7 linked regions of the Homo sapiens genome follow. The main gene of each other region encodes a partner of the protein of the gene in region 6 in a complex. Each region holds a gene or a part of one and is shown on either strand. Other genes may lie near its edges. The genes, in order: NUP205, NUP98, NUP214, NUP85, NUP107, RANBP2 and NUP93.

Region 1 (3,500 bases), on a different chromosome or scaffold from region 6:
AAATTAGCTGGGCATGGTGGCTAACACCTGTAATCCCAGTTACTTGGGAGGCCGGGGCAGGAGAATTGCTTGAACCCAGGAGGCAGAGGTTGCAGTCACCTGAGATCATGCCATTGCACTCCAGCCTGGGTGACAGGGCAAGACTCCGTCTCAAAAAAAAAAAAAAAAAAATAGCTGGGCATGGTGGCTTGTGCCTATAGTCTCAGCTACTCATGAGGCTGAAGTGGGAGGATCACCTGAGTCTCAGAGGGTAGAGGCTGTAGTATGCCATGACTGAGCCACTGCACTCCAGCGTGGGCAACAGAGTGAAACCTCGTCTCAAAGAAGAAAAAGAAAAAAAAAACACCAAAGGTAGCCGCAACAAAGAGTTATCTTCAATCTGTCTTGAGTTTGACCAATTTCAGTAAACACCTTTTTTTTGTTTGTTTTTTGTGACAGGGTCTTGCTGTCACCCAGGCTGGAGTGCAGTGAGGCAATCACAGCTCATTACAGCCTCAAACTCCTGGGCTCAAGCAACCTCCTGCCTCAGCTTCTCTAGTAGCTAGGATTACAGGCGCACGCGCACCACCAGACCTGGCTAATTTTTGTATTTTTTGTAGAACTGGGATGTTGCTATGTTGCCCAGGCTTGCCTTGAACTCCTGGCCTCAAGTGATCCTCCCTCCTCAGCCTCCTAAAGTGCTAGGATTACAGTAAATATCTTTTTTACTGATTACAAATGAAGGGACACTATAAATTTTTCAAAATTACTAAATATGTATTTTTACCATGTAGTTTAGTCAGTTGAGAAATACATTTATTTTCCTTAATGTTTAGGGATACCTCCAGCAAATCACATTTACTCACTCATTCACCATGTGTGAGGTATTGGTAAGATTATACTGCAGTGAGGAAAAACATTAATCATAATCATACATAAATGTAAAATCTGGCCGGGCACAGTGGCTCACGCCTGTAATCCCACCACTTTGAGAGGCCAAGGCGGGCCACATCACGAGGTCAGGAGATCAAGACCGTCCTGGCCAACACAGCGAAACCCCGTCTCTACCAAAAATACAAAAAATTAGCCAGGCGTGATGGCATGCGCCTGTAGTCCCAGCTGCTAGGGAGGCTGAGGCAGGAGAATCGCTTGAACCCAGGAGGCGGAGGCTGCAGTGAGCCGAGATCACGCCACTGCACTCCAGCCTGGGCTACAGAGTAAGACTCCATCTCAAAAAATAAAAAAATAAATAAAAATAAAATAAAATCCAACTGTGGTCAGGATATGAAGGATATGAAGGAGAGGTAGCCAGGGCAAGAGATCACATAATAGGGGACTCTGACCTAGCCAGAGGAAAGAATTATCCATGAGGAAGTGATAACTAGGCTGAAATCTGAAGAACAAAAGTGATAGTTAACTGACAGGTGGGAGGTGAAGACATGCATTCCAGGGAGAGGACAACCTGTGGGTTTCCATGGCAAGAGGGAATGCGGCATGTCAAAGAACTCAAAAGGCCAAGAGAGCTGCAGTACAGAAAACGGGTTTGGCAAGATCATCACACAGGGCTCACTTGCCCACGTTAAAGAATTTTGATGACCGAGTGTGGTGGCTCAGGCCTGTAATCCCAGCACTTTGGGATACCGAGGCGGGCAGATACGAGGTCAGGAGATCAAGACCATCCTGGCCAACACGGTGAAACCCTGCTCTACTAAAAATACAAAAATTAGCTGGGTGTGGTGGCGCACGCCTGTAGTCCCAGCTACTCAGGAGGCTGAGGCAAGAGAATCGCTTGAACTTGGGAGGCAGAGGTTTCAGTGAGCCAAGATCGCGCCACTGCACTCCAGCCTGGCAACAGAGCCAGACTCTGTCTCAAAAAAAAAAAAAAAAAAAAAGGATTTTGGTCTTTACTCTAAAAGATCAAGCCAAATGAAGATTTAAAACATGGGGACTTTCTGCTCATGCCTATAACCCCAGCACTTTGGGAGGCCGAGGCAGGTGAATCGTTTGAGGTCAGAAATTCGAGGCACCCCTGGCCAACGTGGTGAAACCCCATCTCTACTAAAATTACAAAAATTAGCCAGGTGTGGTGGTGGGCGCCTGTAATCCCAGCTACTTAGGGAGGCTAAGGCAGGAGAATCTCTTGAACCTGGGAGGCAGAGGTTGTAGTGAGCTGAGATCACACCACCGCACTCCAGTCTGGGCGACAGAATGAGCCCCTGTCTCAAAATAAAAAATAATTTTTTAAAAAGGAACTTTCTGAACTACAAGAAACAGAAGTTAACCCTATTGAGAGCTGTTTACAAGGATGGAAGAGACCAGAATGGGTGAAGGAATAGGAGGTATGAAAAGGGAGTCAGTAGGCTGGGCATAGCAGTTCAGGCCTGTAATCCCAGCTACTAGGCTGAGGCAGGAGAATCATTTAAACTTGGGAGGTGGAGACTGCAGTGAGCCGAGACTGCACCACTGCACTCCAGCCTGGGCAGAGTGAGGGAGGGAGGGAAGGAAGGAAGGAAGGAAGGAGGGAAGGAAGGAAGGAACAAAGGAAGGAAGGAGATGGAGTCCATGAATACTAACAAATCTTTTGAAAGGCTTGACTAGGAAGAGGACAGTAAGTGGAGTGACGCATGAGATCATCAGTGGAGAGAAAGGGAAGAGCAAGAGAGAGAAGTGAATATACAAGACAAAAAAAGGGGTAACAGGTGAAGAACACAATGGGTGGGATTTACATTAGATAGGAAGACAGAGGAAAAGTGATTCAAAAGAATGCAGACACACCTAGGTTTGTAGGTTTGAGAGTGAATAAAGGGAGTTCATGTATGTTGGCTCCTATTTTCTCTGTGACTAGAAGTCTGAGGGTTTAGTTAGTTGCAGGTTAAAGATTTGAAGAGTGTAGAAAGGTCTGAAGTAGTCACTGCTGTGAATGGACGAGGTGACCAGACTATCACAGAAGGACTGCCAAGCAGTGTTAATAGTTGCTTATTCACAAGTCTGTGAGTGTACTCAGCCAGGTTGATACAGGTCACAAGACTAGTTAAGTTATACAGCTGAAATACAAGCATAGGTTTTTTTGTTTGTTTTTTGTTTGTTTGTTTTTAAGACAGAGTCTCGCTCTGTTGCCTAGGCTGGAGTGCAGTGGTATGATCTCGGCTCACTGCAACCTCCTCCTCCTGGGTTCAAGCAATTCTCCTGCCTCAGCCTCCCGAGTAGCTGGGATTACAGACACCTGCCATCATGCCAGGCTAATTTTTGTATTTTTGTAGAGACAGGGTTTCACCATGTTGGCCAGGCTGGTCTCGAACTCCTGACTTCAGGTGATCTGCCCACTTCAGCCTCCCAAAGTGCTGGGATTACAGGCATAAGCCACCACACCTGGCCAACCATAGGTCTTAGAACTCTACAATCTCTGTATTTTTTCCTTACAACTCCAAGATGTTTGATTTTTTAAAACTGTAATTTAAAGGAAGCACATAACATAGAATGCAATCTCAACAAATTTTAAGTGTACAGTTCAGCAGTGTTCA
Region 2 (3,500 bases), on a different chromosome or scaffold from region 6:
TGTATCATATGTATGTTCTTCAAACCTATTTGACCATGAAGCTTTTCACACACACACACACACACACACACACACACACTCACACACCCCTTCTCCTAGGAATCATGTTTGGTAGAAAAGTAGTTTGGAAAATTCTTCATTCTGATATATTTTCTCTTTATATGATGATTTAGTTGCTGATTATTTCAGGTTATTTTTTTTTCTGTTTTTTTTTTTTTTTTTGTCACAGGTATTATTCTCACTAAGGTTGGTTACTATACTATTCCATCTATGGATGACCTTGCTAAAATTACCAATGAAAAAGGAGAGTGCATTGTCTCTGATTTCACTATTGGTCGGAAAGGTAAGTGTGAGTTTAGCACTTAGTGATTAAGCCAGAGAGTTGCACCTTATTTTTGTAATTAGGGGAAGCTTTTGATAGCTGAATCTTCATTTTCCTACATTTGGGCCCACCTTGGCCTGAATCTTAAATACTTTGATTGATAAGTAACAAAACAAGAAAGACTGGAACCATGTAAATTTTTTTATTTTTATTTATTTTATTTTTTCTGTTGAGATGGGGTCTTGCTACATTGCCTGGCAGATCTCAACTCCTGGGGTCAAGCATTTCTCCTGCCTCAGCCTCCTGAGAAGCACAGAACCATATAATATTCTTTGGGCTTAGGTATACCTGTTTGGTGCTAGTAACTATTTGGGTCATTTTAATTTTCTGTAATTAAAGAAAATACTGGAAATACCAAGAACTTCTGAGAAAATTGAATAATAGGCAAGAGATGTATAACACTTAGCATGAACTTCATGTTATTATTACTGATAATTTTCTTGTGGGAAATGCCACTGTGCTATATTGTATTAAAAAGAGCTCAGGCATTTTAACCCATATGCCAGGCCAAGTGCGAAGGTTTGTTTATATAGCGTCATTATAGATAAATGGGAAGAGATTTAAGAAGGTTGTTTTGAGGCTAATGGGAGTTTTATAAAAATGCAGATGTTAGGCCTGTCGCAGTGACTCACACCTGTAATTCTAGCGCTTTGGGAGGCTGAGGTGAGAGGATCACTTGAGCTCAGGAGTTCTAGACCAGCCTGGGCAACATAGTGAGACCTCACCTTTACCAAAAGTAAAGAAAATGAGCCAGGCCTGATGATATGTGCTTGTAGTCTCAGCTACTTGGGAGGGTGAGGTGGGAGGATTGTTTCAGTTTAGGAGGTTCAGGCTGCAGTGAGACAGGACCACTGCACTTCAGTCTGGTCAACAGAACAAGACCTTGCCAAAAAAAAAAAGAAAAGAAAAGAAAAGAAAAATGCAGATTTTAAATCAGATAACAGTGTAATTGAAGTTACTCTCCCTAAGTCCCCATTCTTACCAGTCTAGGAATTGCTGAATTATTTAAAATACTAATACTTAAAACTGCTTTCTCCTTGTGATTGTTTAATCACTATAGTTGTAAAGTAGGTATTTGCCTTCATACAGAATGAATTTTTAACTATTTGCTCTGATTTATAGGTTATGGTTCAATCTATTTTGAAGGAGATGTGAATTTGACAAATCTAAATTTGGATGATATTGTGCATATCCGGAGGAAAGAAGTAGTTGTCTACTTAGATGATAACCAAAAACCACCTGTGGGTGAAGGGCTAAATAGGTAAGAGTTTATGTACATACAGAAAATTATCAGCTAAATCACAATTTTTTTTTCTGTAAACATAAATGTGTTTAGATGTATGCTTCTGTAGCTTGCTTTCCTTACTATAGAGTACATTTATTGTCTCTACTTTGATTTAAAAGTATAAATGGCAAAGAAATGCTATACTGTGATTTTGAACTCCTTTTCCCTGATTTTATTTTTTAATTCATTTTTTTACATTCCTTGGATTCGATTCTATTCTATTTTATTTCATTTCATTTCATTTTACTATTATTATTTTTTTTTTTTGAGATGGAGTTTTGCTCTTGTTGCCCAGGCTGGAGCGCAGTGGAATGATGTCAGTTCACTGCAACCTCCGACTCCCGGGTTCAAGCGATTCTCCTGCCTCAGCCTCCCAAGTAGCTGGGATTGTAGGCGCCCGCCACCATGCCTGGCTAATTTTTGTATTTTTAGTAGAGACAGAGTTTCACCATGTTGGCCAGGCTGGTCTTGAGCTCCTGATTTCAAGTGATCCTCCCACCTCAGCCTCCCAAAGTGCTGGGATTACAGGTGTGAGCCACGCTGCCCAGCCTCCCTGATTTTATTGGGTCCAACTGCTAATTTCAAAAACTCTTTTTAATAGTATTTTGCTTTATTCCTGTTTCTGCTGTGGCTATACTTAACTCTCTATTTTAGTGTGAGATCCTAGCTTCTAATATCTTAGTCAAGTGAAAGGGCTGTAGTGAAAATTATTTATCTTCATAACCTACCAACCCTGAATCAGGAAGAAATAGAAAATCTGAGCAGATCAATCGATCCTTTCCTTTCCTTTCCCCTTCCGCTTCTTTTCTTTTCCCTTTCTCTTCTTTCTTTCTTTTCTTTCTTTCTTCTTTTGAGACAGAGTTTCACTCCTTTGCCCAAGCTGGAGTGCAGTGGTATAGTCTCAGCTTACTGCAACCTCTGCCCCCTGGGTTCAAGCGATTCTCCTGCCTCAGCCTCCAGAGTAGCTGGGATTATAGGTGCCCGCCACCATGCTCAGCTAATTTTTGTATTTTTAGTAGAGACAGGGTTTTGCCATGTTGACCAGGCTGGTCTTGAACTCCTGACCTCAGGTGATCTGCCCACTTCGCCCTCCCAAAGTGCTGGGATTACAAGCATGAGCCACTGTGCCGGGCCAATAATTAGTAAAGAGATTGACTCAGTAATCACAAACTTGTCAAAAAAGAAAAACCTAGAATCAGATGGCCTCATTGGTGAATTCTACTAAGCGTTTAAAGAAATAACACCAGTCCTACTCAGACTCTTCCAAAAAATTGAAGAGAAGGGAATACTTTCACACTCATTCTATGAGGCAAGCGTTACCTTATTCAGTAACCAAAGACACTGCAAGGAAAGAAAACTACAGACCACTTGATGAGTATATTGATGAAAAAGTCATCAACAGAGCCCTAGGAAGCAGAATTTAACAGCGTATTGAAAGGATTACACATCATGGCCAAAAGATTTATTCTGGAATGCATGGATGGCTTAACATACAAAAGTCAGTGAAACATACCACTTTAACAAGATAAAGGAATATACCACATCATCATCATCATCATAATACAGAAAAAGTATTTACCAAAATCCAACACTCTTTCATAATAAAGGCACTCAAATACAGAAGGCTTTTCCTGTGAGACAAGGCAACACAAGGATGCCTGCTTTTGCCACTTTTCCCAAATATACTACTGCAAGTCCTGGTCAGAGCAATTAGGCAAGAAAAATAAAAGTTAATACAGTTTTGAAAAGTAGTAAAATTATCTCTGTTCTTTGATGACATCTTGTGTAGAAATCCCTAAAGATGCCACACAAAAAAACTTACTAGTTATAAAC
Region 3 (3,500 bases), on a different chromosome or scaffold from region 6:
CTTTTGATTTATTTAGGGTCTGGTATATATTTTTCATGTCAGTTTACCTAATATGCATGAAAGTGTTTTAACATCTATGTATGTCTTTACAGAAGTTAGTTGTAGCTGGTTCCATATCTATTGTATAAAGAAGTATTAACAGAATAGGTTTGCTTGCATTATTATACTTTCATCAATGTGACAGTTTACTTGGATTTTTGTTTTCAGAAAGTGGTATTTTCATACTTGTATCTAAGTATTACGTTGCATTAGACAAAGTGTCTTCCATGAAGATAAACTGCCATCTTAGCTAATTTGGAACAACCAAGTCCTATTAATATAAATAGAAAATATTGACACAAAGAATTCTTTTCTTATTTAGTTGGTTATTTAATTTAAAGATTAATATTTTTACCTTATGGAAAGTTTGGAAAATAGAAAAAAAAATTATTCATTTTTGAGACAGGGGTCTCACTCTGTTGTGCAGGCTGGAGTGTAGTGGCAGGATCTTGGCTCACTGCAGCCTCTGTCTCCCAAGTCCAAGCGATCCTCCCACCTCAGCCTCCCAAGTAGCTGGGACTACAGGCACAAGCCATCACACCTGGCTGATTTTTGTATTTTTTTTGTAGCAACAGGGTCTCACTTTGTTCCCCAGGCTGGTCTCAAACTCCTGGACTCAAAGGGTCCTCCTGCTTTGCCCTCCCAAAGCTCTGGGATTACAGGCATGAGCCACTGCGCCCAGCCTTCCATTGACTTTTTTTTTTCTTTTTAACCATTTGGATTGCATTAAATATCTTTTTCATTTTTTGCATTATGTTTGTAAGCTTTATTCTTAGAAGAGAAATTACTGGGTCTGTTTTTTACAGTTTTTTATACAATGCCAAAATGTTTTCTTAAAAAAAATACTAGTTACCTACCAGTGATAAAAAGTTTCAGGTTTGTTTTACCCATCCAAACATAAGGGGTTAGACATATTTAAATTCTTATAATTTAGAGGACAAATTAAAAATGTACCTTGTTTATATTTCTTTGATTAGAGAGATTGAATGTGTTTTCTTTATGTGAGTTAGTTTCCCTGTTTATTAGTCCTGAAATTTTAAAATCTCAATTTGTATGAGCTTTTTAAAAAATAGAAAACATCTTATTTGTCATTTGCTATGGATCTTTTTTTTTAGTTCATTACCATTTAGTTATTGTACCTGAGTAGCTATTTTTTACACAAATCTTAACCTTCTCCCTTTGCGATTGTTTTTTTTTTGGTCACTTCTAAATTTATCAAGGTGTTAGATTCTGAGACCTAACATATCTATCAATTTGCCTCCTTTGTTTTGAGATACCTGTATTTATGTGACTTTCTATGTGTATTTATCTGGAATTACTTTTAGTGAAATAAGGTGGAGGTCTGAATTAAAACTTTTTCCTGGTTGTTAATGAAATGTTGCAGTGACTGAACTGTTTTGTGTGCCATAGTAGCACTGAGAAGTCCATGAAGTCCAATTATTCTAATGTCTTTCCTTAGTTTTCCTTCAGTTTCATTTATCTCATGAGACCTGAAAACTCCAACATGAACTGTGTACCCATGTGTTCTTTTTGCTTCTTAAACTAGTAACATTTCTGGCTTTATTCTACCACAAATTCTTTTTCACTTGCTTTCTATTATGTGAACCTCCACTGTTACAGTGTTAACATTTTCCTTCCTTTTTTTGTCACTGCAGGAAGTACTCCCACTACCCCAACCTCCTCTCAAGCCCCACAGAAACTGGATGCTTCTGCAGCTGCAGCCCCTGCCTCTCTGCCACCTTCATCACCTGCTGCTCCCATTGCCACTTTTTCTTTGCTTCCTGCTGGTGGAGCCCCCACTGTGTTCTCCTTTGGTTCTTCATCTTTGAAGTCATCTGCTACGGTCACTGGGGAGCCCCCTTCATATTCCAGTGGCTCCGACAGCTCCAAAGCAGCCCCAGGCCCTGGCCCATCAACCTTCTCTTTTGTTCCCCCTTCTAAAGCCTCCCTAGCCCCCACCCCTGCAGCGTCTCCTGTGGCTCCATCAGCTGCTTCATTCTCCTTTGGATCATCTGGTTTTAAGCCTACCCTGGAAAGCACACCAGTGCCAAGTGTGTCTGCTCCAAATATAGCAATGAAGCCCTCCTTCCCACCCTCAACCTCTGCTGTCAAAGTCAACCTTAGTGAAAAGTAAGTCACTTCTAAAGTTTGATTCTTCTGTGAGTTGGGTAGAAATATTGGATGTTATTTACTAAAAGTAGAGTCACTCTGAGAGGAGTTAACTGAGTAGAATTTTTTTACCCAGAGTGATACTTGCAAATGGCAAAAATTCAACCAACATAAAATACTGGCATTTCATCAGTGAATAGAGTCCAGAAGGGTCTCTTAGCTAGCATTTTATTTTTTTGACTATGGGATTTATATTCAGGTATTTGTTTTGCTTTTTTACGTTACAAATGTAGGAAATATTCCTTATTTTAAAAAAAGAAGCAATCCAGAGTATGCATCCTGGAAGGGAAATGAATCCCTTGTAGTCTTTTTTCCTCCCTGTGTCTACCCTTAACTCTCTCTGAACTGCTGTCTACACAGCCACAAAGTCATCTTGTGACACTGTAAATTGTTAGGTGATTCTTCTGCTTGACAGTCCCTATGAAGCCCCGTGGCTGCTCACTGCTAATTCTTAGGTTGGTATCCAGTTTCCTCCAGATCTGGGTCGGGCAGCTCACTCATTTCTTATTTATTTACTTCTTTATCTTGTTCTTTTCTTCCCACTAGAATGTAAGCTTTTGGAGGGAAGCAATCCCTTATATCTTGTAACCCCTCCCAAGATAACCATGAGTTCCCAAGATAACCATCGAGTATAAGTACTACCAGCTTTTTCCCTACTTGCCTGTACTATCTGTTGTTGCTATGGTGGTGCTGCTGCCACCACAGTTACTGTTAATACTGAATTGGCACACATCCACTTCATGCTAAGGGTTGCATAGTGTTCCATTTTGTTGACTGCACCACAGTTTATCTGACCAGTCATCTAATGCTGGAGTTTAGATTGTCTACAGACTTTTGCTCTTTAGGTGGAACCGACTTTACATTTCCTTTAGGCCATAAGTATCCCAAAGACAGTTCCCTGCATTCCTCTTCCTTTTTCACTCCCCAGAGAAGGTGCTCACTCTCAAAACGAGTTCTCAGTAATTTCCTTGGTAAGAGAAAGTACTAACTCTCCTAAGCATAATTGTGTCCCACCTCCTGTTTAAAACTCAGCTGGAAACAATAGTATTTCATATCATGATAAACTTGGTATTTCATATTGTGATAAACTTAGTTTTGATATTTCCCCTGAATAATTAATTCCTAAATAAGCAGACGAAAAGATAAATGTTTCCTTGCAGCTTTCACCTTTTATAAGAAATAGCTAAACATTTTTGTTTCCTGAAGGCAAAAAGTATGTTATCTTTGTAAGTTAACATAAAAGATAATAAGTTATCTTTTGATGACATTGCTCATGCTAGTGTAAAAGAATC
Region 4 (3,290 bases), on a different chromosome or scaffold from region 6:
ATGTCTGGTCTCCGTCACTTGAGTTGTGTTGTTAGTTCTCTGCTCTCAGTGCTTGCTGCCTTCCAGCCTTGGAGGCTGCTGGATCCTTTGGGAAGACACCGGGCACTGTCTCAGCCCTTCCTTCCAGTTGTTGGTGGCTTTCGTGCAGGCTAAGGCTTTGGCTCCCTTAGCCTGGGTCCCCTATAGCCTTTTCACTGGCTTCTCCAATGGTTTCGACATAACCATCAGCTAGAAATCTGGGTAGCAACAGCTGTTTTGGGAAGCTGAGGTGTCCTTTCCCCTGGCCCAGCCCACTCCCTCCCATTTTTTTCCCCAGCTTTATTGAGGTGTGATTAACAAAGTAGTATGTATTTAAGGTGTACAAAATTTTTTTTTTTTTTTTGGAGACAGAGTCTTGCCCTGTCACTCAGGCTGGAGTGCAGTGGCACGATCTCAGCTCACTGCAGCCTCTGCCTCCTGGGCTCAAGCGATCTTCTGCCTCAGCCTTCCGAGTAGCTGGGACCACAGGCACACGCCACCACGCCCAGCTAACTTTTGTATTTTTGGTGGAGATGGGGTTTTGCCATTTTGGCCAGGCTGGTCTTGAACTCCTGAGCTCAAGTGATCCACCCGCCTCGGCCTTTCAGTGTTGGGATTACAGGAATGAGCCACTGCACCCGGCCAAGGTGTACAACATGTTTTTTGTTTTTTTTTTTTTTTGAGATGGAGTCTCACTTTGTCGCCCAGGCCGGAGTACAATGGCGCGATCTCGTCTCACTGCAAGCCCCGCCTCCTAGGTTCACGCCATTCTCCTGCCTCAGCCTCCAGAGTAGCTGGGACTACAGGTGTCCGCCACAACATCCGGCTAATTTTTTGTACTTTTTGTAGAGATGGGGTTTCACCGTGTTAGCGAAGATGGTCTTGATTTCCTGACCTCATGATCCTCCCACCTCGGCCTCCCAAAGTGCTGGGATTACAGGTGTGAGCTACCGCGCCCGGCCAACAACATGTTTTGATAGATGTATACATTGTGAAATTAAGCTAGTGACATCTGTCACCTCACATAGTGACCCTTTTGGTGTGCGTGTGGTGAGAACATTCAAAAGCTACTTTCTAGCTGGGTGTGGTAGCGCATGCCTGTAATCTCAGCTACTGAAGAGGCTGAGGCATGAGAATTGCTTGAACCTGGGAGGCAGAGGTTGCAGTGAGTCGAGATCTCACCAGTGCACTCCCGTCTGGGTGACAGAGCAAGACTCCACCTCAACTACTTTCTGAGCGATTTTTTTTTTTTTGAGATATGGTTGTGCTCTCTCACCCAAGTTGGAGTGCGGTGGCGTGATCTCGGCCGATTGCAGCCTCTGCTTCCCAGGCTCAAGCAATACTCCCACCCCAGCTTCTCGAGTAGCTGGGATTACAGGTGTGTGCCACCATGCCTGGCTAATTTTTGTATTTGTAGAGATGGGGTTTTGCCATGTTGCCCAGGCTGGTCTTAAATTCCTGGACTCAGGTGATCTGCCTGCCTTGGCCTCCCAAAGTACTGGGATCACGGGCATGAGCTATCATCACGCCCGGCCCCATCTCTTTGAGGGACAGGACATGTGGGGTTTCTTGCTCACCCCCACTCTTGTGGGACGCGGCCTGTGCCCTGATTTTCCTTCTTGCCTTGGTGTCTGAATCTGCAGCATCGCCCTGAGCAACTGGTGGTTTGTGGCCCACCTGACAGACCTGCTGGACCACTGCAAGCTCCTCCAGTCACACAACCTCTAGTAAGTGGCCGGGAGGCACCGATCCTCCTCTTCTTACCACCAGGCCCCCGAGGGTGGTGTGAACTGAATGCCTGAAAGGGAGGTTGGGCTAAGGGGGCCCTGAACAGGGCAGGCCAGGAGTCTTGGTCTTTTGTTATGTTTTATTCCAGTTTCGGTTCCAACATGAGAGAGTTCCTCCTGCTGGAGTACGCCTCGGGACTGTTTGCTCATCCCAGGTAGGAAGGACCCCATGGGTGTGGGCTATGCGGGTGCTCTTCAGCATGCGGGTGCCATTGGAGCTTGGACTGTTCTCTCCCAGTTGGCTCCTTGAAGGCTTCGGAAGGGTCAGTGAAAGGGAGCTGTAGGTGCCAGTCCTCGGAGCCATGAGGCAGCACCTCATGTCTGTCCTCCTCGAACCTTTGCAGCCTGTGGCAGCTGGGGGTCGATTACTTTGATTACTGCCCCGAGCTGGGCCGAGTCTCCCTGGAGCTGCACATTGAGCGGATACCTCTGAACACCGAGCAGAAAGCCCTGAAGGTGCTGCGGATCTGTGAGCAGCGGCAGATGACTGAACAAGGTGAGCTGGCCCTGCTCCCAGCCTACTGTCTGTGGGACGCAGGAGTCAGGGGATCCTGAGGTCACACTTTATGCCTACCCCAGCCATCCTCCTCCTCACGAGCCACACTGGAGACGTGGGGCTGTGGACGCCAAGAGGTAAACTAAGAGATGGGATAATTACTTGGGAGGGACAGGAAAGCTAGGGATCCACTGGAACCCAGACAAAATCTACACGCCATCTGGAAAGGCCTGAGCCGCCCCTTTTCTCACACACTTGATTCCACGAGGTCAGGGCTGGGGTTGGCGCTGTTTCCCTGTCCAGGTGGGTTGCTATTGCTAGCTCAGCCTGGCTCAATGGGGAAGCAGTGCTGGAGGTGGCTCCAGAAAAGCAGAGAGAGTGGAATGAGGATGACCAAGTCTGCCCCTTCATTTCTCCCCTCACTGTTGAGTAATGTAAACATGAGTTATTACCCTGCAGAGAGGCAGTTGCATGTTCACGACCATTTCTGAAAGCATATGGTATTCACGATCCACAGGAAGATGTGATTTGAGGCATCTGGAGAGGTAATAGAAGAGCTGACACGTAGGGAGAAACACGTAGGGAGAAAAAAAATAGAAGAGCTGACATGTAGGGAGCAACGTTTTGCTCCCCTTGAAGCCACACACACTCATAGAGCCAGTCTTGCCGTGATGGGCACTTACACTCTTAGCAGATCCCAGACACTGTTAATCAGCCGAGTTTCCAGCTCTGCCGATCCAGCTGCATTTAGAGCCCAAAGAGTGGCTCTGCGGTGGAGTGAGGCTGTGAGGCCACTCCGGTCCCCACAGGGCTCAGGAATGGAGTGATTTGTGGAGTGAAAGCCGTTTACCTTTTCTTTTCCCCTGCAAAGTTCGCAGCATTTGTAAGATCTTAGCCATGAAAGCCGTCCGCAACAATCGCCTGGGTTCTGCCCTCTCTTGGAGCATCCGTGCTAAGGATGCCGCCTTTGCCACGCTCGTGTCAGACAG
Region 5 (3,500 bases), on a different chromosome or scaffold from region 6:
TTATGAAAACTAAAAATACTGAAGTTTGACTAACGACGGAGTGAAATTAGCTTACCTGACTACCACAGATGTTTTCATACTCTTCCACAAGATCAAAAACTGTACTCGAAGAGTGCTTCAGAAAAGACTGCAGGAAATCAGAAAACATACTCATGGATGCTAGAACACATCAAAAAAAAAAAAAGGAATAAAGAAAAGTTAAGTGACGTACTTCTAGGTAATTCCGTTTGTTTGAAAATGTATTTATTTGTTTATTTATTTTTTGAGATGGAGTTTCACTCTTGTTGTCCAGGGTGGAGTGCAATGGCACGGTCTCAGCTCACTGCAACCTCCACCTCCCAGGTTCAAGTGATCCTCCTGCCTCACCCTCCCAACTAGCTGGGATTACAGGCATGTACCACCATGCCCAGCTAATTTTTGTATTTTTAGTAGAGATGGGGTTTCACCATATTGGCCAGGCTGGTCTCAAACTCCTGACCTCAGGTGATCTGCTCGCCTCAGCCTCCCAAAGTGCTGGCATTACAGGCGTGAGCCACCGCACCCAGCCTGTTTGAAAATTTAAATGGCTACAAGTCTTTTATAAATTCACTGCTATATTAAAAAAAAAAAAATTGAGACAGAGTCTCACTCTGTCACCCAGGCTGGAGTGCAGTGGCGCAATCTCAGCTCACTGCAACCTCCACCTCCCAGGTTCAAGCGGTGCTCCTGCCTCAGCCTCTCAAGTAGCTGGGACTACAGGTGCGTGCCACCATGCCCAGCCAACTTGTTGTATTTTTAGTAGAGACGAGGTTTCACTGTGTTAGCCAGGATGGTCTTGATTTCCTGACCTCATGATCCGCCCACCTTGGCCTCCCAAAGTGTTGGGATTATAAGCGTGAGCCACCGCACCCAGCCTCAAAATTTTTTTTAATTGGCAAGATACACATAATATAAAATTTATCTTAATCATTTTTCTTTTTTTTTTTTTTAAGAGAGGGGGATCTTGCTCTGTCACCTAGGCTGGAGTACAGTGGTGCAATCATGGCTCACTATAGCCTCAAACTCCTAGGTTCAAGTGATCCTCCCACCTCAGCCTCCCCAGTAGCTGGGACTATAGGTATATACCAGCCACCATGCCCAGCTAATTTTTTATTAGTCTGTAGAGACAGGGTCTTGCTAACTCCTGTCTCAGCATCCCAAAGTGGTAGGATTAAAGGCATGAGCCACTATCCCTGGCTTAATCATTTTTAAGTGTATAGTTCAGTGTCAGTAAGTACATTCACATTGTTGTGCTACCATCACCACTATGTATCCACAGAACTATTTCATCTTGTAATACTGAAACTCTGTACTTAATAAACATTAACTCCCCACTCTCCACTTACCCCAGCCCCTGACAACTATCCATCTACTTTCTGTCCCTACATGTGTTGACTATTCTAAATATCTCATGTAAGTGGAACCATAGAGTATTGCCCTTTTGTGACTGGTTTATTTCACTTAGCATAATGTTCTCAAGGTTCATCCATGTTGTAGCATGTGTCAGAATGTCCTTCATATTTGGCTGAATAATATTCCACTGTATGTATAGATCACATTTTGTTTCCCCCATTCATCTATCAACAGGTACTTGGCTTGCTTCTACCTTTTGGCTACTATGAATCATGCTATGAACATGCATGTACAAATATTTCTTTGAGACTCTGCTTTCCAATCTTTTGGATATATACCCAGAGGCAGGTTTGCTGGATCATATGGTAATTCTATTTTTAATTTTTTGAGGAACTGCCATACTGTTTTCCATAGCAGCTGTACTATTTTACATTCCAACCAATAGTGCACAAGGATTTGAATTTCTCCACATTGTTGTCAATACTTGTTATTTTCTGGGTTTTTGTTCTTGTTGTTGGTTTGTTTGTTTTTCAGTAGCCACACTAACGGGTGTAAGGCAGTATCTTGTAACTCACTGTAGTTCTGATTTGGATTTTCCTAATGATTAGTGACATTTGAGTATATTTTCATGTGCTTACTGGTCATTTGTGAATCTTCTTTAGAACAGTGTCTATTCTATTTCTTTCTTTCTCTCTTTCTTTTTTGAGATGAAGTTTCGCTCTTGTTGCCCAGGATGGAGGTGCAATGGCATGATCTCAGCTCACCGCAACCTCTGCCTCCCGGGCTCAAGCGAGTCTCCTGCCTCAGTCTCCCGAGTAGCTGCGATTACAGGCATTCGCCACCATGCCCAGCTAATTTTGTATTTTTAGTAGGGAGAGGGTTTCTCCACATTGGTCAGGCTGGTCTCGAACTCCCAACCTCAGGTGATCCACCCGCGTCAGCCTCCCAAATTGCTGGGATTACAGGCATCAGCCACTGCGTCCAGCCTCTGTCTATTCTATTTCTTTGCTCATTTTTAAATTGGGTTGTTTTTTTGTTGTTGAGTTGTAGCAGTTTTTATACATTTTGGATATTAACCCCTAAGCAGATATATGATTTGCAAATATTTTCTCTCATTCTGTGGGTTGCCTTTTCACTTTGCTGATTGTATTCTTTCGTGCACAAAAGTTTAAAATTTTGATGTAGCCCAATTTATCTATTTTTTCTTTTGATACCTAAAGGTCTTTTAAGATCTCAAAGATATACTAGTTATTTTATAAACAATTACTTAAGAAATTGAGCCAGATTTAAAAATATCTGAATTATATTTTAAGCACACCATTACAAAGTAGTGGAGAAAGTTATAATACATACTAAATGGCATGTTCCACTCTGGGAAAATACAGGCACTTGGCCTAAGTAGAAAGTATTTTGAGTCACTTAATACGAGTACCTGTTTTTGACAGATACTACAAGAAAGTAGTAGTTACCAAAGTGTTAAGAGCAGGGCTCTGGAGCTAAACTGCTTAGTTTCAAATCCTGGTACCACTACTTCCTAGCCAGGTGGTTTGAGGTAAGTTACTTAACCACTTTGAGCAGTAGTTTCCTTTTCTCTAAAATGGGAATAATTATTGTAACTATTTAATGGACCACCATAAGGATTACATGAGTTAATGCTTGTACAGTGGTCATAACACTATCTGAAAAAAAATAACAGCATTACGGTCCAGGAGAAAACAAAACACATCAACAATGTTAGATTAAGAACTAAACCTAAAGAAAGAGATGCTCTTTCAACAGCACAAATAAGAAAAAAATTACAATATGAGACTTGTCTAATAACGTAACAGGCTGCTATTTACATTAAAAGATAAAATGGCAAGATGCTGCTCAGACTGAGAACCAAGGTGAGGTTCTCAACCTTCTAGTGATACTGTATCAAATACCATTGCCATAACCACAACTAATTAGCTTAAGGAAAAATATATTATAGACAGAAGACCAGATGAAGACACAGGAGGAAGACAGCCATCTGTAAGCCAAGAGAAGAGGCTTCAGAGAAAACCAACCCTGCCAAGACCTTTAACTCAGACATCTAGGCTCCAGAATTGTGAGAAAATAAATTTATGTTGTTGCCTATAATCCCAGCA
Region 6 (3,500 bases):
GCCCTAAGATATATAACCAGTTATCACATTAACAAATTCTCTTTGTCATCACAAAGAAAATGCCTTAAAAGAATTTGGATCTTTGAAATTTGTCATGGAATTTATTATAAGCAGCAGCTTATAGAGAATTTCATCTCCTATTATAGGTAGAAGTAAAATCTGGAGAAGAAGATGAAGAAATTTTGTTTAAAGAGAGAGCCAAACTTTATAGATGGGATCGGGATGTCAGTCAGTGGAAGGAGCGCGGTGTTGGAGATATAAAGATTCTTTGGCATACAATGAAGAATTATTACCGGATCCTAATGAGAAGAGACCAGGTTTTTAAAGTGTGTGCAAACCACGTTATTACTAAAACAATGGAATTAAAGCCCTTAAATGTTTCAAATAATGCTTTAGTTTGGACTGCCTCAGATTATGCTGGTGAGTTTTTACATTCAAATGCTACTTTTCATTTTTTGGACTTTTCTAAAATCTATAACAAACAAAACAACTTATAACAGTTATTTTAATACTAAGGTCACTGCTTCCCCTTTCCCTCCCTGCCAGATGGAGAAGCAAAAGTAGAACAGCTTGCAGTGAGATTTAAAACTAAAGAAGTAGCTGATTGTTTCAAGAAAACATTTGAAGAATGTCAGCAGAATTTAATGAAACTCCAGAAAGGACATGTATCACTGGCAGCAGAATTATCAAAGGAGACCAATCCTGTGGTGTTTTTTGATGTTTGTGCGGACGGTGAACCTCTAGGGCGGATAACTATGGAATTATTTTCAAACATTGTTCCTCGGACTGCTGAGAACTTCAGAGCACTATGCACTGGAGAGAAAGGCTTTGGTTTCAAGAATTCCATTTTTCACAGAGTAATTCCAGATTTTGTTTGCCAAGTAGGTATTATTAAGTACATACCACAATTGAGGTCTTGAAGAGTGCACCACACTAATGGGAAATTTGAGTGTTTTTCCTTGACCTCATCCTGTAGTTTTGTTAAAGATTTCTTTAGGTTTTCCACACATGGAATCACATGGCATCACTACCCATTCCCTGCTCCTGCCTAAAACTTTCAACCTAAAATAATTGAGGCTGGGCACAATGACTCATACCTGTAATTCCAGCACTTTAGGAGGCCAAGGCAGGCAGATTGCTTGAGCCCCGGAATTTGAGACCAGCCTGGGTAACATGGCAAAAATCTCGTCTGGACAAAAAAATACAAAAATTAGCCAGGTGTGGTGGTGTGCGTCTGTGATCCCAGCTACAAGGAAGCTGAGGTGGGAGCATCCAGGAGGCCAAGGCTGCAGTGAGCTAGGTTTGCACCACTGCACTCCATCCTGGGCGACAGAGTGAGACAGCCTGTCATTAAAAAAAAAAAAAAAAAAAAAAAAAAAAATCAAATTTTCAGTACTTGAGATCTAGTAGAAACTAAGGGATGGGAAAAACCTTTTCATTTTTCATCTTCTTTCCAACAATATGAATTTCTTAGTTTTCAAACTATACTCAGGAAAGCTGGGCTTTAGGATTTAACATGTAGTGATGAGTTCTGTGTGTATTTTAATATTTTACTCAGGATTCCTATTAATTGAAAAAAATTTTTAACTTTTTTATTATAAATCTTTTTTTCAGGGAGGAGATATCACCAAACATGATGGAACAGGCGGACAGTCCATTTATGGAGACAAATTTGAAGATGAAAATTTTGATGTGAAACATACTGGTCCTGGTTTACTATCCATGGCCAATCAAGGCCAGAATACCAATAATTCTCAATTTGTTATAACACTGAAGAAAGCAGAACATTTGGACTTTAAGCATGTAGTATTTGGGTTTGTTAAGGATGGCATGGATACTGTGAAAAAGATTGAATCATTTGGTTCTCCCAAAGGGTCTGTTTGTCGAAGAATAACTATCACAGAATGTGGACAGATATAAAATCATTGTTGTTCATAGAAAATTTCATCTGTATAAGCAGTTGGATTGAAGCTTAGCTATTACAATTTGATAGTTATGTTCAGCTTTTGAAAATGGACGTTTCCGATTTACAAATGTAAAATTGCAGCTTATAGCTGTTGTCACTTTTTAATGTGTTATAATTGACCTTGCATGGTGTGAAATAAAAGTTTAAACACTGGTGTATTTCAGGTGTACTTGTGTTTATGTACTCCTGACGTATTAAAATGGAATAATACTAATCTTGTTAAAAGCAATAGACCTCAAACTATTGAAGGAATATGATATATGCAATTTAATTTTAATTCCTTTTAAGATATTTGGACTTCCTGCATGGATATACTTACCATTTGAATAAAGGGACCACAACTTGGATAATTTAATTTTAGGTTTGAAATATATTTGGTAATCTTAACTATTGGTGTACTCATTTATGCATAGAGACTCGTTTATGAATGGGTAGAGCCACAGAACGTATAGAGTTAACCAAAGTGCTCTTCTCTAGAATCTTTACACCTCCTGTGTGGTTACAAGTTAACTTTGTAAGTAGCGTACCTTCCTTCCTTAAAATATCTAGCTTCCTGTGCCCTTTCATAGATATTCGATTAATTTTTACATTTTAAACAAGTTGACTATTTCCTTTAGGGGTTTTGTTTCAAACTTTTCTGTCATCTGTCTCTACTACCTCAGAAACTGCAGCTTGGTTCTGATGATAGAAATTGAATTTTTCCTTGTAGTTATTGTGATAAAGTATGAATATTTTTAGAAAGTCTATACCATGTTCTTTCGTTAAAGATTTGCTTTATACAAGATTGTTGCAGTACCTTTTTCTGGTAAATTTTGTAGCAGAAATAAAATGACAATTCCTAAGAGCCACTGACATCCAAAAAATTCATTACTTACGCTTCGGGTTCATTCTAAAGTAAGGAAGACAATTTAAAGGCAGTAAATTCAAACTGCTGCATAATTTCCAGAGCTCCTAGTTTCTCAAGTTTGATACACACCAAAAACGTATTTGGAAATGGCTTGTATCAAATGTTAGGCAAATTGCTAAAGAAAAGAGGATGTTCTTATTGGCCTACTCAATATGGAACTACAAAGAATCCAGGTAGAACACAAAATTTTGTATATTGCAATTATGAATATTGACTGTCTTCCACCCATCTGTGTTCTTTCGGGTGAAATTACCTCATTTTATTTAGTGAGGAAAGACAGGTTTATTCCCTGTTACATGGGGATTTGGAAATTGGGTATCCTAAAGCAAGTAACTGTTCAACCACCAGTCAAAAGAGGGGAGGGATGTTGTGCGAGTAATGAGTGATGGTATACCATCACCATTCCACTCGGCCACAAAGCCAGATACTTGAAATAAACCTACTCCAAATGTATCAGTTCAGTCTTGAACCATGGATTACATATGTTTACACTAAATATTTCAAATTGGCTTATTTGGAAATCTATGTAATATAAACTGATGTAAAGTGTGTTGTAACTTTTCAGCTGAGACAGTTGATGCCTTCGTCATGATTTTAGAATAAATTCTTAAGTTAATGCAAGTGCTT
Region 7 (3,500 bases), on a different chromosome or scaffold from region 6:
GTAGTCTGAAACACTGGCCACGACACCTCTAAGAATCTCCCCCATCCAACCATCACTAGCTTTGGTCTTGAATGCCTTTGAGAGGGCTGATGAAAGTATACAACAGTATTTAGGCGAGCATAATGCTTAAAATTAAGCTTTATGTGCATGATTAAAATACTGAGATGCCCTTTCATACCCATTTCTTTGGCAAAAATGTTAAGTTTGATAGTACCAAGTACTAGTTCTGATGCGGGGACAAAGGAACTCACACAGTGCTGGTGGCATGGTGAGTTAGTAGAACCACTTTGGAAAGCTGTCTGCTGTTACCTAGTAAAGCTGAACATGCATTTGGGTGGGCATAGGTGGCCTGGCACTGGCAGTGGCACCCTCAGGGTCCCATGGAGCCAGCTCCTGGCTTACCGTTCGGCAATGGAGAGTGCCATGTTCTTCAGCCTCTCCTTGTTGGATTGCGGGGCACTGATCTGGGGGACGACAGGGCTCAGCAGTTTGTTCATCAGCTCCAGTACCTTGTCAGCATTCTGCTCAAGTTTTTAAAATTAAGGAAGCAATCAATAAAGTAATCAATAAAAGGAACAACTATATAATGCCCCCTACCCACCAAAGAGAACTTTCTGGGGTGACATTTTTTACCGCCTCCCAAGTTCAAGCAATTCTCGTGCCTCAGCCTCCTGAGCAGCTGGGATTACAGGCATGCACCACTATGCCTGACTAATTTTTATATTTTTAGTAGAGACGGGGTTTTGCCATGTTGGCCAGGCTAGTCTCGAACTCCTGGCCTCAAGTGATGCGCCTGCCTTGGCCTCCCAAAGTGCTGGGATTACAGGCGTGAGCCCCTGCACTTGGCCTATAGCTGTTTTTTTGTCTACTTTTCTCAGTTGATAAAGGAGAGAATGTAATCTTGTTTAGGTCATAGAATCCTTAGCAGTTATCATATGTTCTTAGTCATCATTTGTTCTTCGGTAGAAACATGTATTCTAGTCCTCTCAAAACGCCCAGCTAAGGTCTTATTTTCTTTCACTCCTTCCTGCACACTGATGTGGTCTTATTTTCTAACACCACTGTTCCCCAGTGTGTCTGTGGTTGCCAGGGTCAGCATAATGTAATTTTCAACAGTGGCTTCACCATCGAAATGTGATGGATGCTAATTCTGCTGCCAAGTGAGACAACAGTTCAATGCCTGCAGGACATCCTTTCAATATGTTGTTTGGTCAGAAAAATCTTATGGGCAGAAATAATGCTGTAAAATGGGAATTCTGTCCTGACTGGACCATTAACTGTCTAAGCACTAGAGCAAATGCCTCTGCAGGGAGGGTGCTACAACAATGACACTGTCCAAGTGGCTGCACATTTAATGCCAAAAGGCCAGCAGACCTGTGAAGTGCAAAAGAAGGAAGTGGGCACACTTTACCTTGGCAAGGTCATACAGCTTTGCTGCCTCTTCAAACAGTCCTTTATTTTCTGCCACAGAAGCAACTTTGTTGATAATAGGCTTTGTGTCACTAGTAAACTTATCTATGACTCCAGGCTGACAAGACAAATTATGGAGGGGGAGGAAGAGAGAGACGGGTGCACAGAGCTATTATTTTAAACACAGAGAAGCAATTAGGATCCAAAAAATACTTCAAGTGGAATTGCTTGCCCTGGGCAACGCATATATTTCATCAGCCAGACTCTGGCTTTCTTAAAGATATAAAGTCCTATTAAAACTATAAAAGAGACCAAGGAAACTACACATGAAAGGGCAGACTTACTAGAAGCACAGAGGAGTCAGCAATAAGACATCTGTGCTTTCTAATTTTCCAAAATGACCCAGAGAGTCAGTGAAATCAATGATTTTAAATTTGCTGATAAGTAGGAACTAGAGAGAAAAATCAGGAGGCTTAGAAAAAATATCTGAAAAATTTTGGATTTGCTTTCTAAGACAGATGGCAAAAGGAACTCAGTGCTGAAAAAACACACAGCAAGTGGTAACAGGACATTTCTTTTTTTTTTTTTTTGAGACAGAGTCTTGCTCTGTCTCCCAGGCTGGAGTGCAGTGGCGCAATCTCGGCTCACTGCAAGCTCTGCCTCCCAGGTTCACACCATTCTCCTGCCTCAGCCTCCCGAGCACCTGGGACTACAGGTACCCACCACCACGCCTGGCTAATTTTTTTGTATTTTTAATAGAGACAGGGTTTCACCGTGTTAGCCAGGATGGTCTCGATCTCCTGACCTCATGATCCACCCGCCTCGGCCTCCCAAAGTGCTGGGATTACAGGCGTGAGCCACCGCGCCCGGCTGGTAACAGGACATTTCTTAAAAAAAAATCACCATCACCACTCAACAGCAACTAAATGGTCAGGAGAGCATGAGAGAGGCCTTAGGCACCCTGGGAGAATGAAGGCAAGTGCATAACATCTCTGCCTGGCCATTCTGCTTCTCCACTAGCGCTGGACTCTCAGGGCTAGACCAGGTCAAGGTGGCTGGACCAGGTTGAGGTGACTTGCCCTGCCACTTGGGAGGTAGCAGAGGATAAGGTCTTATCTATGTTTCTAGCTCTGTCAACTCACATACAGTAGGAGCCTCCTGGCCCCAGTGCAGCCTGTTAAAGAAGAAACTATGCAAAGCACTCAGCACAATGCCTGTTGATTGTCACTGCCCAATAAGCAAGGCCACTGTCATCAGCACTGTCACTTGCCTTTCTTCTGAGGTAGATGGTGTGAGCAGTGTGAGCTCATCTACAGATTGCTGGGTCCAAATCACTCATTTTTACAAACGAGAAAACTCAGCCCCTGAGGGACAAGTGACTTTCCAAGGGCCACAGGGAGATTCAGGGTCATGACTGGTCTCTGACAACAGGATCTCTGACCCTCCTGCCATGACAACCAATGGGCATAGTGAGTCCTGAAATCCCTCAAGCTTCCAGAAGTATTTCCAGGGTCACTGTGGAGTTCAAAGCCCTTGGAAACTGCATTTTGAAGGAGGTCAAGTGCATGTCTAACTTTCCCATCTTGGGAGAATGGGTGCAGTAATCAATTTCTTTTCCTTGCATGTTTTCTGAGCCAAGAATGGCAGAAATGTATAATAGCATTCTCAGCTCAAAAAATGACAGGCATGAACAAATGAATATTCTGAACATAATAAAAAAGCTATGTAATCACAAATTAACATATTTTAAGGAGATATAAGTGTGTGTAAAACCAAGGTCATCATTTGGGCCCATAATTTTCATTCCATTTTTTAAATTAAGCAACTCTGTTCAGATTTGCATCTTTAGTACCTTGAATCTTAAAATCTAAGTGTATTTTTTGATATTTATAAATCCCCAATGGCTAACGAACATTTCTCTAAGGATGCATTTAACTCACCTTTCTACTTCCGTCATTCTCTAGTTTCCCAAGAATCATATCGAACTGTGGAAGGAAAAAAGTTTACTCAAATTATTGGACAAAGATATAAACATATTCCATAAGTCTTCAGAGAAAAAAGAGGGGAATCAAATGGGATGAATGGGATAA

Evidence for each region.
Region 1: RANBP2 (region 6) and NUP205 share a complex: the UniProt entries of both Homo sapiens proteins name them as parts of the nuclear pore complex.
Region 2: RANBP2 (region 6) and NUP98 share a complex: the UniProt entries of both Homo sapiens proteins name them as parts of the nuclear pore complex.
Region 3: RANBP2 (region 6) and NUP214 share a complex: the UniProt entries of both Homo sapiens proteins name them as parts of the nuclear pore complex.
Region 4: RANBP2 (region 6) and NUP85 share a complex: the UniProt entries of both Homo sapiens proteins name them as parts of the nuclear pore complex.
Region 5: RANBP2 (region 6) and NUP107 share a complex: the UniProt entries of both Homo sapiens proteins name them as parts of the nuclear pore complex.
Region 7: RANBP2 (region 6) and NUP93 share a complex: the UniProt entries of both Homo sapiens proteins name them as parts of the nuclear pore complex.

What each region holds. Positions count from the first base shown.
Region 1 is NC_000007.14:135,560,917-135,564,416, reverse strand, and holds part of NUP205 (nuclear pore complex protein Nup205), read right to left. Parts: intron 1-3,500. UniProt on the Homo sapiens protein: Plays a role in the nuclear pore complex (NPC) assembly and/or maintenance. May anchor NUP62 and other nucleoporins, but not NUP153 and TPR, to the NPC.
Region 2 is NC_000011.10:3,717,555-3,721,054, reverse strand, and holds part of NUP98 (nuclear pore complex protein Nup98-Nup96 isoform 1 precursor), read left to right. Parts: intron 1-229; coding exon 230-343; intron 344-1,504; coding exon 1,505-1,643; intron 1,644-3,500. UniProt on the Homo sapiens protein: Plays a role in the nuclear pore complex (NPC) assembly and/or maintenance. NUP98 and NUP96 are involved in the bidirectional transport across the NPC. May anchor NUP153 and TPR to the NPC.
Region 3 is NC_000009.12:131,142,586-131,146,085, forward strand, and holds part of NUP214 (nuclear pore complex protein Nup214), read left to right. Parts: intron 1-1,694; coding exon 1,695-2,169; intron 2,170-3,500. UniProt on the Homo sapiens protein: Part of the nuclear pore complex. Has a critical role in nucleocytoplasmic transport.
Region 4 is NC_000017.11:75,229,679-75,232,968, forward strand, and holds part of NUP85 (nuclear pore complex protein Nup85), read left to right. Parts: intron 1-1,661; coding exon 1,662-1,745; intron 1,746-1,894; coding exon 1,895-1,960; intron 1,961-2,149; coding exon 2,150-2,301; intron 2,302-3,172; coding exon 3,173-3,290. UniProt on the Homo sapiens protein: Essential component of the nuclear pore complex (NPC) that seems to be required for NPC assembly and maintenance. As part of the NPC Nup107-160 subcomplex plays a role in RNA export and in tethering NUP96/Nup98 and NUP153 to the nucleus.
Region 5 is NC_000012.12:68,693,478-68,696,977, reverse strand, and holds part of NUP107 (nuclear pore complex protein Nup107), read right to left. Parts: intron 160-3,500; coding exon 56-159; intron 1-55. UniProt on the Homo sapiens protein: Plays a role in the nuclear pore complex (NPC) assembly and/or maintenance. Required for the assembly of peripheral proteins into the NPC. May anchor NUP62 to the NPC. Involved in nephrogenesis.
Region 6 is NC_000002.12:108,781,982-108,785,481, forward strand, and holds part of RANBP2 (E3 SUMO-protein ligase RanBP2), read left to right. Parts: intron 1-146; coding exon 147-420; intron 421-546; coding exon 547-881; intron 882-1,614; coding exon 1,615-1,920; 3' UTR 1,921-3,500. UniProt on the Homo sapiens protein: E3 SUMO-protein ligase which facilitates SUMO1 and SUMO2 conjugation by UBE2I. Involved in transport factor (Ran-GTP, karyopherin)-mediated protein import via the F-G repeat-containing domain which acts as a docking site for substrates.
Region 7 is NC_000016.10:56,834,629-56,838,128, reverse strand, and holds part of NUP93 (nuclear pore complex protein Nup93), read right to left. Parts: intron 3,396-3,500; coding exon 3,351-3,395; intron 1,529-3,350; coding exon 1,412-1,528; intron 522-1,411; coding exon 403-521; intron 1-402. UniProt on the Homo sapiens protein: Plays a role in the nuclear pore complex (NPC) assembly and/or maintenance. May anchor nucleoporins, but not NUP153 and TPR, to the NPC. During renal development, regulates podocyte migration and proliferation through SMAD4 signaling.